Linked DNA regions of Homo sapiens. The protein of the gene in region 1 purifies or fractionates together with the protein of each later gene. This does not show direct contact. Each region holds a gene or a part of one and is shown on either strand. Other genes may lie near its edges.

Evidence for each region. Proteins that work in one complex are often made in the same cells at the same time.
Region 2: the proteins of TGOLN2 (region 1) and RAB3A purify together in Homo sapiens (affinity purification with mass spectrometry; 3 studies listed by BioGRID and IntAct, with this or other methods). This does not show direct contact.
Region 3: the proteins of TGOLN2 (region 1) and INTS4 purify together in Homo sapiens (affinity purification with mass spectrometry; 4 studies listed by BioGRID and IntAct, with this or other methods). This does not show direct contact.
Region 4: the proteins of TGOLN2 (region 1) and IPO13 purify together in Homo sapiens (affinity purification with mass spectrometry; 4 studies listed by BioGRID and IntAct, with this or other methods). This does not show direct contact.

What each region holds. Positions count from the first base shown.
Region 1 is NC_000002.12:85,321,490-85,324,989, reverse strand, and holds part of TGOLN2 (trans-Golgi network integral membrane protein 2 isoform 1 precursor), read left to right. Parts: coding exon 1-75; intron 76-2,190; coding exon of another isoform or gene 2,191-2,248; coding exon 2,249-2,254; coding exon of another isoform or gene 2,255-2,285; 3' UTR 2,286-3,500. UniProt on the Homo sapiens protein: May be involved in regulating membrane traffic to and from trans-Golgi network.
Region 2 is NC_000019.10:18,196,284-18,198,663, reverse strand, and holds the end of RAB3A (ras-related protein Rab-3A), read left to right. Parts: intron 1-1,003; coding exon 1,004-1,194; 3' UTR 1,195-1,880; downstream 1,881-2,380. UniProt on the Homo sapiens protein: The small GTPases Rab are key regulators of intracellular membrane trafficking, from the formation of transport vesicles to their fusion with membranes.
Region 3 is NC_000011.10:77,879,669-77,883,168, reverse strand, and holds part of INTS4 (integrator complex subunit 4), read left to right. Parts: intron 1-3,500. UniProt on the Homo sapiens protein: Component of the integrator complex, a multiprotein complex that terminates RNA polymerase II (Pol II) transcription in the promoter-proximal region of genes.
Region 4 is NC_000001.11:43,949,950-43,953,449, forward strand, and holds part of IPO13 (importin-13), read left to right. Parts: coding exon 1-204; intron 205-3,500. UniProt on the Homo sapiens protein: Functions in nuclear protein import as nuclear transport receptor. Serves as receptor for nuclear localization signals (NLS) in cargo substrates.

The DNA of each region.
Region 1 (3,500 bases):
TTTGTCCTGGAAGGAAAAAGATCTAAAGTCACCCGGCGGCCAAAGGCCAGTGACTACCAACGTTTGGACCAGAAGGTAAGGAAGGAGGAGCCAGGTCCATGGGAGGGATAGGAGGGATAGGCAACGTCAGATGGACCCAGTAGTGGGCTTGCATTTGCCATGAAGCAGCAGTGGCTGATTCTGGGGATGCGGTTGCTGTTGCTGTTGCATTCGCCCTTTTTAGACAACAAACTAGAAACATCTAGATACACATATCTGTGACGTTAGAGCTAGCAGAGACCTTGGAATACTCTACAGCAGCTACCTCCCTTCACAGATGAGGAAATAGGCCCACGCAGAAACACTCTTTTTTTTTTTTTTCCGCTAAGTTTCTACTGCAAGTTAGTGGCAAACTCAGGACCTGATAGCAACTCCCTAGTCTCCCAGTCCTGAGCTTTCTGCATTCTGCCAGCGCTCCATAAACTTTAATAGGCATTTGAATCACCTTGGGGAATTTTGATAAAAAGCATTATCTGATTCATTAGATGTGGGGTGGAGCCTATATTTCTACATTCTTTTTTTTTTTTTTGGAGATGGAGTTTTGCTCTTGTTGCCCAGGCTGGAGTACAATGGTGCAATCTCGGCTCACTACAACCTCTGCTGCCTGGGTTCAAGCGATTCTTCTGCCTCAGCCTCCCGAGTAGCTAGGATTACAGGCGCCACCACCACGTCCAGCTAATTTTGTATTTTTAGTAGAGATGGGTTTCTCCATGTTGGTCAGGCTGGTCTCGAACTCCCAACCTCAGGTGATCCGCCCGCCTCGACCTCCCAAAGTGCTGAGATTACAGGCATAAGCCACCGTGCCTGGCCTGTGTCTACATTCTTAGGAAGTTCCCAGGTGAAACCAAATGCCACTGGATCCACACTTTGTGTGGTAAAGTGCTAGACTGTGCTCCCTGGAAACACGAGCCTGGAAGCACATAGGCCTCCAACTCCCCACATCAGCCTGGCTTAAGCACCGTAGGCTGGAGTTCCTGAGTACAGCCAATCCATTCCTCTGTCAGACAGATAAGCCCTCCTTCCACCCCATGGCAGCAGAGCTAAGCAAGGGTCTCTCTAAAGACAACCTGTCTAAGCAGGAAGACTGTACTCTCACTGCGTTGCTACCAGCATGCACCCTTCCTTCTGCTTTCAGCATAGCAACAGCCAGGACATTGGCAAAGAACCATTGGTGGCCCAACTATGAATTGTTCCCAGACTTCCTGCAGGGAACACGATTCTCTTGCACAACTCAATATTAGCTACAGAACGAGCCACTGAGCTCAGAATATCTTTGCTAACTAGTCCAGTAGGCTAGCTTTACAATTTAGCTCTGGACTACTGCCTTTTCAGATAATTGACTTTAAGGGTTTTCCCCCTTTTATGATTTTTGTTTGTTTGTTTTTGAGACGGAGTCTTGCTGTGTCGTCCAGGCTGGAGTGCAGTGGCACAATCTTGGCTCACTGCAACCTCCACCACCCGGGTTCAAGCAGTTCTCCCTCTTCAGCCTCCCGAGTAGGTGGGATTACAGGCGCCCACCACCACGCCCAGCTAATTTTTAGATTTTTAGTAGAGATGGGGTTTCACCCTTTTGGCCAGGCTGGTCTTGAACTGCTGACCTCAAATGATCCACCCACCTCAGCCTCCCAGAGTGCTGGGATTACAGGCGTGAGCCACCACACATGGCTTATGATTTTTAAAAAAATACACATGTGGCTGGGCATAGTGGTTCACGCCTGTAATCCCAACAGTTTGGGAGGCAGATCACCTGAGGTCAGGAGTTCTAGATCAGTCTGGCCAACATGGTGAAATACCATCTCTACTAAAAATACAAAAATTAGCTGGGCATGGTAATCCCAGCTACTACTGAGGAAGCCGAGGTGGGAGAATCGCTTGAACTTCGGAGGCAGAGGTTGCAGTGAGCCAAGATCATGCCACTGCACTCCAGCCTGGGCAACAGAGCAAGACTCCGTCTCAAAAAAGAAGAAAACCACCACCAACAAAAAACACATGTAAATAATTCACAACAGTACAGAACAGTATGAAGCAGAAGCCAGGATTCCTCTCTCTCCATCAAGTGTATATCTTTCTAGTGTTAGGTTTCATTTCAAACTTTAAAAATCATTTTGTGTGCTATTTTAATTAATTGCTGTTTCTGTGGTGGTGGGTCAGTATGTCTTAATTCTGAATGTTTTCCCTGCACCTCCTAAAAGATCTTTTTTCCCCTAAGTCCTAACAGAATGGTATATTCCTCTGGAAAAAGATGAACGTCACCAATGGATTGTGCTGCTCTCGTTTCAGCTTTGATTTTTTTGTCCTTGAGAACCTTGTCCTCCCTGCTGATTTGTTTCTAAATCAAAAGAAATGAAGAAAAAAGTACTGTGACCTGAGAGACACCCTCCTCTAGAATTTAGTGGCGGGTCTGGGCTGGCAGAGGTAGGGGGCTGCTTTGGGCTTTGCACCTGCACTTTGGTGACATTGTTCTTCTGTGTTCCCTTTATTTATGCTGGTGGCTTCCATCCGTTCCTCCTCTGAGGGTGAGTGGAGGGGTATATGGAAACACGGCTATGACCAAAGGGAGATCCCAGCCTGGGCAGGCTGCGCTGCTGACCACCCTCCCTGGGGCCCGGGCTCTGTAGGAAAGTTGGTCCTTGACTGTGGCATTGCACTCTGCACTGTTTCTCTCTGCAGACCTAGGGGAAAACTGCAGGTGGAAGTGCTTTTCTACTAAGGCCTCTTACTTTGGGGGGGATGTGCCCTACAGAAGACATAGAAGATGGGGAAATGCCAATGGGCAAAGAGCTACTTTGAATACATAATTCTCTTCAAAGACTTCAGCAGCAAACCAAAACAGCAGGTTAAAAAAAAAGATGCTTTTTTGGGTGCAAGTCTAACCTGTCTAGCATGAGATCTTCTTGATTTTCTGATTATTTTATGTAGCTTGAGACAAAGTGAATCAACTTCCACTTAGTTGTACCGAGCATAAAACAGAACTTGGGCTTCCTGGCAGTGAGGCCACTGTCCCATCACAGATTTTTAAAATAAATATGATTTGAAGTAGTGTGATCTTTCACACAATCATACTCAGTAGGAACTTTTTGAAATAGGGCAAGTTTATGTTTCATGCGAGAAAACATGAAGGAGGGTTTTGGTTTTGGTCTGCAGTTTTTCCAAAGGGCTTTTATGAGATACATTTCCCACAAAGTCCATTTTGCCTTTGTTGCCTAAAACAGACAAAATAGACTTAGATTTATTAATAGAAACTATACTCTCTGCCAATTTTACCTCAGTGTATTTAATGGTCCTTTAATCTGATATAAGATGCCAAGGGTATTTGATAAAAATTCTTCTTCCATGCCATGTCAGGAGTTAATACAAATGAAGAAATTCCGTGGGTTCCCCTGGGATAAGTGAGGGTAGTGTCTTGGACAACACTATTGTTTGAAGGTTTATCTTTTCTAATCATGCTCTACCGCATTGTA
Region 2 (2,380 bases), on another chromosome or scaffold:
GGCACACACCCAAGGTCTTACAGCTAAAGCCAGGTAATTCACACTTTCTGCAAACTAGCCTTCATCCAGGAGCCATTTGAGTTGGATCCTGAGGGATGTGTAGGAGTTTGCCATGCAGAAAGTTTAAGGATTTATTCTGACACTCACCGTCCAACGCTTTGTTGGGTGTTGCTGGGCTCAAGAGGCATCTAGGGGTGCCTCGAGGGACCCCTGAGGTAGAGGGAGGGACCTGGATGGGAGGAGCACATGAGAGGAGCCAGGCTTCCTGGAGTGGTGGGTAGTGAAGAAGGGTCTTTCAGGCAGAGGAAATAGCTTGGGCAAAGGCTTGCAGTGAGAAAGGTCCTGTGTGTTTTGGTAATAATTTCACAAGACTGGAACATGAGGGTCAGCTGGAGGAAATGTGGCCGATCACAGAGGGCCTCAACCATGTGCTGAGAGGCTGGGACTCTTTGGAGGGCAATAGGGAGTCACAGAGGGTGTGTGAGCAGGGGGAGGTCACAGCTGGATTTGAGTGTCAGAGCCTTCCAGGGCCAGTGCACGGGGCTGGGCTGGACGCTGCAGGGCATGTCTTGCCAGGTCCCTAAGGACAACGAGACACAATTTTAGGAAGGAAGGGCAGGAGGCCAGGTGCGCTGGCTCACACCTATAATCCCAGCAATTTGAGAGGTGGGGGTGGAGGATCACTTGAGCCCAGGAGGTCGAGACTGCAGTGAGCTATGATCACGCCACCATACTCCATCCTGGGCAGCAGAGCAAGGCCCTGTCTCAAAAAAAAAAAAAAAAAAAAAAAGCAGGAAATGCAAAGCTGACCCAGTTCCATGTTGCTTCTCTGTGGGATTTGTCAGTACCTTCAATAAGTTTCTTCTCTGTGGGATTTGTCAGTACCTTCAATAAGTTGCTTGGCACTGGGAATCTCCAGGTGTTCCCTTTCCTCAGAGAAGCATCTCTGGGAGTTGGCATAGGGCGTGGCCAGGGTCCTCATCCCTGCCTTCTCTGACCACAGGGTTCGAGTTCTTTGAGGCAAGCGCCAAGGACAACATTAACGTCAAGCAGACCTTTGAGCGCCTGGTGGATGTCATCTGCGAGAAGATGTCCGAGTCGTTGGACACGGCGGACCCTGCGGTCACAGGCGCCAAGCAGGGCCCACAGCTCAGTGACCAGCAGGTGCCACCGCACCAGGACTGCGCCTGCTGAGAGCCATCCCACTCCCTTTCCCCTCTTCCCTGTCTTCCCCACCTTCCCCCAACTACCCGGGCCTGACCCGGCCCCTACCAGCCACGGGCACAAGACCCCTGCTCCTGACTTAGCCCGTCACCCTTATTTATTATTGTAGCTATTTATTTATTTATTGAAGATGTCCCCCAGGGGCCCAGGCTCCCCTGCCCGCCCCAAGCCCTGCCCCTCCTGTACATATAGCCCTTTCCCCACTCAGCTGTGGTGTCTCGTGGCCCCGTGAACTCACCGCTCACCCTCCTGAACCCCCCCCCCCCGCCTTTTTTTAAAATTCACCCCCATCCACAGTTGTCAGTTGTGAAGAGGGGCCAGATGACACCCTAAAGCAGGCTGATCGGGCAATGGGAGGTGGCCAGGCCTGCCAGCCCCTCGGCTCTGCCGCGGTGGGCCGAGGCCGCTGTTGGGGGTTTCCCTGTGTGGACCATGGGGATCAGAGTCTGGCCTGCCAGGCTCCTCTCCCCGTTTTCTCTTTTGGTGGGGGGGTGTGCTGTGGGTATTCACCACCCTGGGACCCCCCCCCCCCCCGCCCACCAGACCTGTTCTGACCTCATGAGTGTCAAACGTGCCCCCCAGTTCCTTAGGAGATGTCATGACAACACTACACGCACCCAATAAAGCGAATGGACCATCCATGTGTGTCCCTGTGAGCACCGGGTCCTGCCCACCCTGGTTTTGATCATCCACAGCATTTTCTTTTGTTATTTTTATTTTTCAATATAAATAGAGACAGGGTCTTGCTATGTTGCCCAGGCTGGTCTCGAACACCTGGCCTCGAGCAATCCTTCCACCTCAGCCTCGGGAAGGGCTGAGATTACAGGTGGGAGCCACTGCGCCCAGCCAGCAGTTTCAGTTACATTATAGAGAGAGTTTAATGGCATTTCCACAGTTCAGGACCAGGGAAAGAAACACAGAGGCTGCCTGGCCCTATGTGAAACTTTTGGGGGCCGACTCCAGGCCTGAGCCTGCTCTGAGGGGATCAGTCATGTCCCCGCCTTAGTCCCAGGACCTGAGGGAGCTCTGGATTGGTGGCTTGGCCCAGAGCCAGGTGGATGGCAGTGTTGAGGGGCTGGTGCTTGAGACTGGTTGGCAGAGTGGGCCCTGTGCTGAGGATGGGACATCTTGGTCACAGGTCGCATGAGGTTCCTGC
Region 3 (3,500 bases), on another chromosome or scaffold:
TTTAGAGATAGGGAATGCCTTTTGGAATTTTCTTTCACTCTGTGTTTTTAAACACATAATTATAAGGCTATTATTATTATTATTATTATTATTTTGAGACGGAGTCTTGCTCTTGCCCAGGCTGGAGTGCAGTGGTGCAATCTCGGCTCACTGCAACCTCTGTCTGCCTCCTGGGTTCAGGTGCTTCTCCTGTCTCAGCCTCCCGAGTAGCTGGGATTACAGGTGCACGTCACTACACCTGGCTAATTTTTTTGTATTTTAGTAGAGACAGGGTTTCGTCATGTTGGCCAAGCTAGTCTCGAACTCCTGACCTCAGGTGATCCACCCGCCTTGGCCTCCCAAAGTAGTGGGATTACAGGCATGAGCCACTGCGCTGGGCCTTTATTAATGGTTTCCCTCTGTCAGGGTGTTAGATGGGTAATGATGACTTTATGAAGCTGTTGGATGTTAGGGCAGCCCCTTTGGGGTTCTAGTGGTGGTAGGCCTGGTGTAGTTGAGGGAGCATCCAGCAGTTCTGCTACCCAGGACGTGCTTCCCTGAGTATTCCTCATTCCATAATCTGGCTGCCTGGAATGTTTTTGCACTATTTGCCAAACCACTGGCCCCACAGGAAAATAGATTCCTTATTCTAATATCTTCTGCTGAAGGGATCCCGGACATGGGGAAGGAAATGCTGTGGGACAGTATTGTTTTGGGAGGGACAAGGCTCAGGAAAGCAAATTACAGTATGCTGTAGCTCCAAAGATCGTGGAAGGTCTTGAGAGGGTCTGACTTGTCCCTGGTCACACAGCAAGTCATTGCCAAGGCCAGAGTTAGAACTCAGCTGATCTGCCCCCAAGCTCAAGGTTCTTTTTCCTAGGCCCCATTTCCTCTTAAGGTATCCTAGTTCATTGCAGACTTCCTTGTTTTGTATTGCCAGGCGATCCTGAGCCTGAATAATTTTAACTTATACAAGATCACAGCCAGGCCTGGTGGCTTGTACCTGTAATCTTCGGGAGGCTGAGGTGGGAGGATCGATTGAGCCCAAGAGTCTGAGACCAGCATGGGCAATATAGGGCAACCCTATCTCTACAATAGATATATAAAAAAGTTAACTGGGCATGGTGGCATGTGCCTGTAGTCCCAGCTACTCAGGAGGCTGAGGCAGGAAGATTGCTTGAGTCTGGGGGGTCAAGGCTGCAGGGAGCCCTGATCATGCCACTACACTCCAGCCTGGGTAACAGAGCAAGACCCTGACTCAAAAGAAAAAAAAAAAAACCATCAGAAACAAGAAAACAAGATCACCTCCTCTGAATGGTCGCTACCCAGTCACTATTACAAATCCCTGTTTTAATTGTTTATATATAGTGCGTACTGGTTTCAGATGTGTTTTCACATTTAATTACTTACTGACTTTCCCATTAGGATGTAGGCTTCTATAGAGCAGGGAACTTGCTTGTCTTTGCCTCTGTATCTCCATTGTTTTAGTAGCCTGTGTCTCTAGTGCCTGACATGTAGTAGGCACTCAACAAATAATGAAAATTGAATACAAGGTTTTAAATGTGCAATAAAAATTCATTTAATCTTTAGACCAACTCTGCAGTGGAAATTAGTATTCTCTTTTCATTTTACAGATACATAAATGGAGGCCCACATACCTGATCAGTGACAGTGCTAAAGCTGCAGTCACCCTTCCCAGCCCTCACTGTGCTATGTCCCTTCCGGTTTGGGGCACTGAAGTGAAATATGTCTCATTGTAAATGAGCTTGCAGTTTCTTTCTCCTAATCTAGGTGATGGGGCCTGGAGTTTCTAGGGAGCTCCTTCAATCCCTCAGTAGCTCCCCACCAGGGAGGGGCCTCTCCTCTGGGAGGCAGGATGCTGCCACGTAGGAAGCTCAGTCATAGACCATGTTTCAAATTCTGCTTCCTTTGCTGTGTGATCCTGAGAAAGTTATTTTACTTCCCTGTCTCATTAAGATGAGAATAAGAATATAAACCTGCTAGGAGAAATATTCTTCCAGGCATGACGCAGAAGTTGCTTGAGTTATCCTAGATGATCTTGTCTCCTTCTCCCAAGTTCCCCTCCTTCTTGTTTTCTCTCTTCTCCGCTTTACTCCTATGGCATTGCCTTGAATTGCCATTCTTATCAAATGTTGGTAAGGGAATGCAAAATGACCCTGTAGGGCTGAGTCCTACATCAACTCCCTCTGACCTTAGCAGGATTTATTTGTTTTTTTGTTTTTTTGTTTGTTTGTTTGTTTGTTTTGAGACAGGGTTTCCTTCTGTTGCCCAGGCTGGAGTGCAGTGGTGTGATCCTCTCGGGCTCAAGTGGTTCCTCCCACCTCAGTCCCCCTAGTAACTGAGACTATATGCCTGGCTAATTATTTTTATTTTTTGTAGAGACAGGTCTCACTATGTTGCCCAGGCTAGTCTCAAACACCTGGGATCAAGTGATTCTCCTGCCTTGCCCTCCCAAAGTGCTGGGATTATAGGCTTGAGCCTTATCCAGCTCTTACCAGGATTTGGCTTCTTGAAAGTGCTATGCCAACTGGGGCTGTGGTTGTGGTCTGCCACTTGGGATGGAATGGGAGAGTGTGGCAGGAAAGCAGATATAGGTACCTATTTTGATTCCACCCTAAGTGGGAGATTCATCTGGAGCCTGGTATCAGAGAACAGTGTTAGTTTCATGACAGTTACACTCATGGCTGCTGCATGACCCTCATGTTGTCATGTGAGTGTGTGCTTATCACATGGCTGGTACTTGATGATGAGGCTGCACTTAGATCTCATGCTGAAATCTGAGGTGCACTGGATTGCTCTGGCCTTGGGCTGACTGCAAACCTTTCCCTTCCTGGAGGACAGCAATCCAGTCTCTACTCTGACCCATAGAGAGAAGCTTGGATGTAACCAGGAAGAGGTCTGGGGAGGCACTGAGAAGTCCTGGAGTCTCTGCCCTTGTTAATTTAGATCCATCTAGCCTTCATTCCTACCCTCTGAACTTCTTAGCCTTGGGATCATCTTCAACTTACACTTTTTGCTCTGGTTGCACCAAATTAAGGAGACATCCCAAGCTCACTCCATTCCTGGCCTTTGCACTTGCCCTTACATTTTTCTGAAATTCTCTCCCTCTTCTTTATAGAAGCTTGTGGTTAATAGAATGAGTAACTGCTTCAGTTTATGAACTGGGCTCAAATTCTTACCCAGGTGTGCATCTGGGGAGTCTCTGAGAACCTATCTGATTCTTGGGATTTTTGCCAAGATTGTGACAGTCTTTCTTTCATAATGTAGCAGGATAAGAACTCTTGGGGTTAACTGTTTGGCATAGAATGGATATTCTATTCCAAAGCCTTCCTGCGCTCCTCCTCAGTACTTCTTGCAGGCTTGGTTAGAGCGTGTGTTGTACTCCATTGCAACTATCTGTTTCCTCAACCAAACAGCAGGCAACTTGAGGGGAGTTCTTAATTATTCTTGCTAGGACCTGCCACATAGAGACACTAGATGATTATATCGTAAGATAATGT
Region 4 (3,500 bases), on another chromosome or scaffold:
GCAGCTGCTACAGCAGCCCAGCTCACCCAGCTGTGTGCGTCAGAAGGTGCTCAAGTGTTTCTCCAGCTGGGTGCAGCTGGAGGTGCCGCTGCAGGACTGTGAGGCGCTCATTCAGGCTGCCTTTGCTGCTCTGCAGGACTCGGAGCTCTTCGACAGCAGTGTGGAGGCCATTGTGAATGCCATCTCACAGCCTGATGCCCAGAGGTGAGCTAGTACCCACTCACCCAGAAGACAACCTCTTTGGCCAGCCACACATCCATCCATCCATCTGTTCAATAAACATTAATTGAATGTGTACTGATACCTGGTCCTATGCTGGAGATACAGCAAGGAACCAAAGAAGACATGGTCCCTGTCCTCATGGTTCAGACAGGGAGGCAGACATTAAACAACTAATTATCAGTTATTCAATTAAAATATTTGACTCTCTTTTCCTTCTCTCAACTAGTCACCAAGTCCTGGCTGTTCCCCTCCTGACCATATTGCAAATCTATTTTTTTCCATTTCCATTGCTACCACCTTAGTCCAAGCTGTCATCATCTCTCTCCCCAGATTACTGTAGAGCTTGTCCTCACTCTTGTACCCTTCATTGTCCCAGCAGCCACAGTGATCTTTTGAAAATGGGGATCTAATCTTTCTGATCAGAAGCTTTCAGTGGCTTCTCAATGCTCTTAGGTTAAAGCTCAGAATCCTTAATGTGACTCATAATGGTGCTGCACAGTATGGCATCACTGGCCTCATCTCATGCTACTCTCCTTGCTCTCTACACGCTCACACAGTTTCTTTAATTCCTTGAATGTCCCATGTTCCTTTCAGCCTCTGGCTCATTACATATACTTGACACCTTGCCTCAGCTTAAACTTCATTTCCATAGGGAAGTCCTCCATGGATTCTTAAGGCTAAGTTTGATCTTCTCTCTTATATTACCTCAGAGCTCCCAGTATTTTTCCTTCTTAGCCCATAACATGATTTCTCTCACCTCTGTGAGGACAGGGACTCTGTCATTTTACTTTGTCGCATTGTGCTCGGCACATGGTAGCATTTGATATTTTGTGAATGGAGGAAAGTAGGAGTTGCCTGAGTTGGGAGGGGTGGGGCTGGAAGGGATTGGGGGAGGAAGGTGGATTGTTCTAGGCTTTAGGAACCACAGCATGTGCAAAGACTTGTGGGCAGCATCATGATATATTCAAGGGCCCTAAAGAAGTGAGTGTAGTGAAGTGTTTGGCAAATGTTCATTGAGCATGTCCTGTTTTGGGCCCTGTGCTGAGCTCTGGGAGCACAGAGACAAATGCTTTAGCTTCAGTCTCAGGAGCTCACAGTCTAGTGGACACATGAGTGGCAAGTACAATCAACATGATGAATCCTCTGATGGAGAACGCAGGGGCCTTGAAGAACCCAGAGGAGGCTTTCACTGAGTCTGAGGGCTGTGAAAGGATTCGCAGAGGAAGTGACAACCCAGCTGTGTAAGAGTTAGCCAGATGGAAGTGATGGATGGGGAGGACATTCCAGCCCAAGCAAGGGAAGGGTGAAAGCCCAGAGGGTCTGGTGATCTGTAAATCATTAGATGTGATTAGACAGCAAGATTTAAGGGCCAGAGGTATAGGAGACCTGGGCCCAGATCATGCAGGACCTTGGCCAAGTTTAAGATTTTGATCTTCATCCTGAAGACGATATAAAGATATTAAAGGATTATAAGCAGAGAAAATGGCCTACTGAGACTTTTGGTATGAGCTGGATTAGAAGAAGTGAGACTGGAGGTCCTGATGCTGACATTTCAGAGATGGGGCTTTGGGACCTTTGGCAGAATTGGAAGGGAAAACCATTGAAAGAGACTTCATGGAAGAGTGGCTGATGACTCAAGCCTTGGCATTAGTCACATCTAAGTTTGAATCCCAGATGGTTCACTTATTAGATCTGAAATCTTGGATCAGCCATTCCTAAGGCTCCGTTTCCTCATCAATAAAATGGGGATGATCATATCAACCCCACAGAGTTGAAAAGGTTTAAACAGGATAATGTGCACAAGTCCTGCCCCTGGTGTTCGGTAGAGAATATTTTGACTCCTTGAGTAATGGGAGTTCTTTTGTGGTCTCTGCTAGGGTTGGGATGGTCAGTAGCATGCATTTGTACCTTTGGGTTATTGATACGTTACATGTTTTAAAATGGGAACTGTGTGTATATGTTCTACCTTTATACTTTATGTGATCAGTTAATGGTAATTGTTTATTTATTTATTTTGAGACAGAGTCTCACTCTGTCACCCAGGCTGGTGTGCAGTGGCACAATCTCGGCTCACTGCAACCTCCGCCTCCCGGGTTCAAGCGATTCTCTTGCCTCAGCCTCCAGAATAGCTGGGATTACAGGCGTGCATCACCACGCCCAGCTAATTTTTGTATTTTTAGTAGAAACGGGGTTTTGCCATGTTGGTCAGGCTGGTCTTGAACTCCTAACCTCAGGTGATCCATCTGCCTCCGCCTCCCAAAGTGCTGGGATTACAGGTATGAGCCACCATGCCTGGCCAACTGTTCATTTTTTTAAAGAGAAACATAGTTACTATTAAATGGATTAAGGCTGTTTACTTTTAGTACTGGTCATAAGAAGTAGAACTGGAATCATGCAATAGAAAGTGGGCCTAGTTGTTCAGTGGCTAAATTTGAAAAGGAGTTGGTTTCCTATATATATATGTGTGTGTATACATACATATATTTATATGTATATGATACACACACACACATAGATAATGTGCTTAATCACTGCCTTTTGAAACTTTAAATAAAATATTGGGTTGATTTTAAAAAATAAAAGATTGTTTCGGTATGAGGATTAAATAAGAGAATGTGAAGCTTTTAGCATGGTTCCTATATACTCTGTAAACGGCAGTTGCCAGTATTTGGTTTCATTATTGTGTTGGGAGTTATTATGATACTTATCCCCTGGCTTCCCAGGCTTTCCAGCTTAAGGTGGATACCTAATCCCAGATCTCTTGGCAGCCTGAAGCTCAAGTGCTGGGTGGGCTCTGACAGTTGGTGACTAAGGGAAACAGATCAGGGCAAGTGTGTGGGTGATGTGAGGTGTCCTTGGATACACCCAAGTTTACCCGCCCAGCCAGTCTCAAGGGCTTTGGCAGGTAATTGATGCCCCTTCTCCTCTGAACGAATGAGCGAGCAAGGAGCCAGTGAGGTAACCCACAGCCTCCTTGGTGCCCATTGGCTGCAGCCCCTTGGTTGCTTAGCAACTCTCCCCATTTTCTCAGCTCTGCTCCTGAAGCAAAGCTCTAATTGCAGGTCTGGGCTGAGCTCCGTGTGAGCAGCAGCAGAGGAGTCCCAGCAGCCCTGCCTCGGCTACTTGAACTGACCGATTGGAGCCAGGCCTCTTGAACCCAGCCTCAGCTGTGGTCATAAAGACATCCTCCCTGTCTCCTTCCCCCAAACCTAGAAACCTCTGGGACCTCAGACTTGTTCTTCTGTCCACTCACAGGTCGCAGACACAGGTGCTCAGGT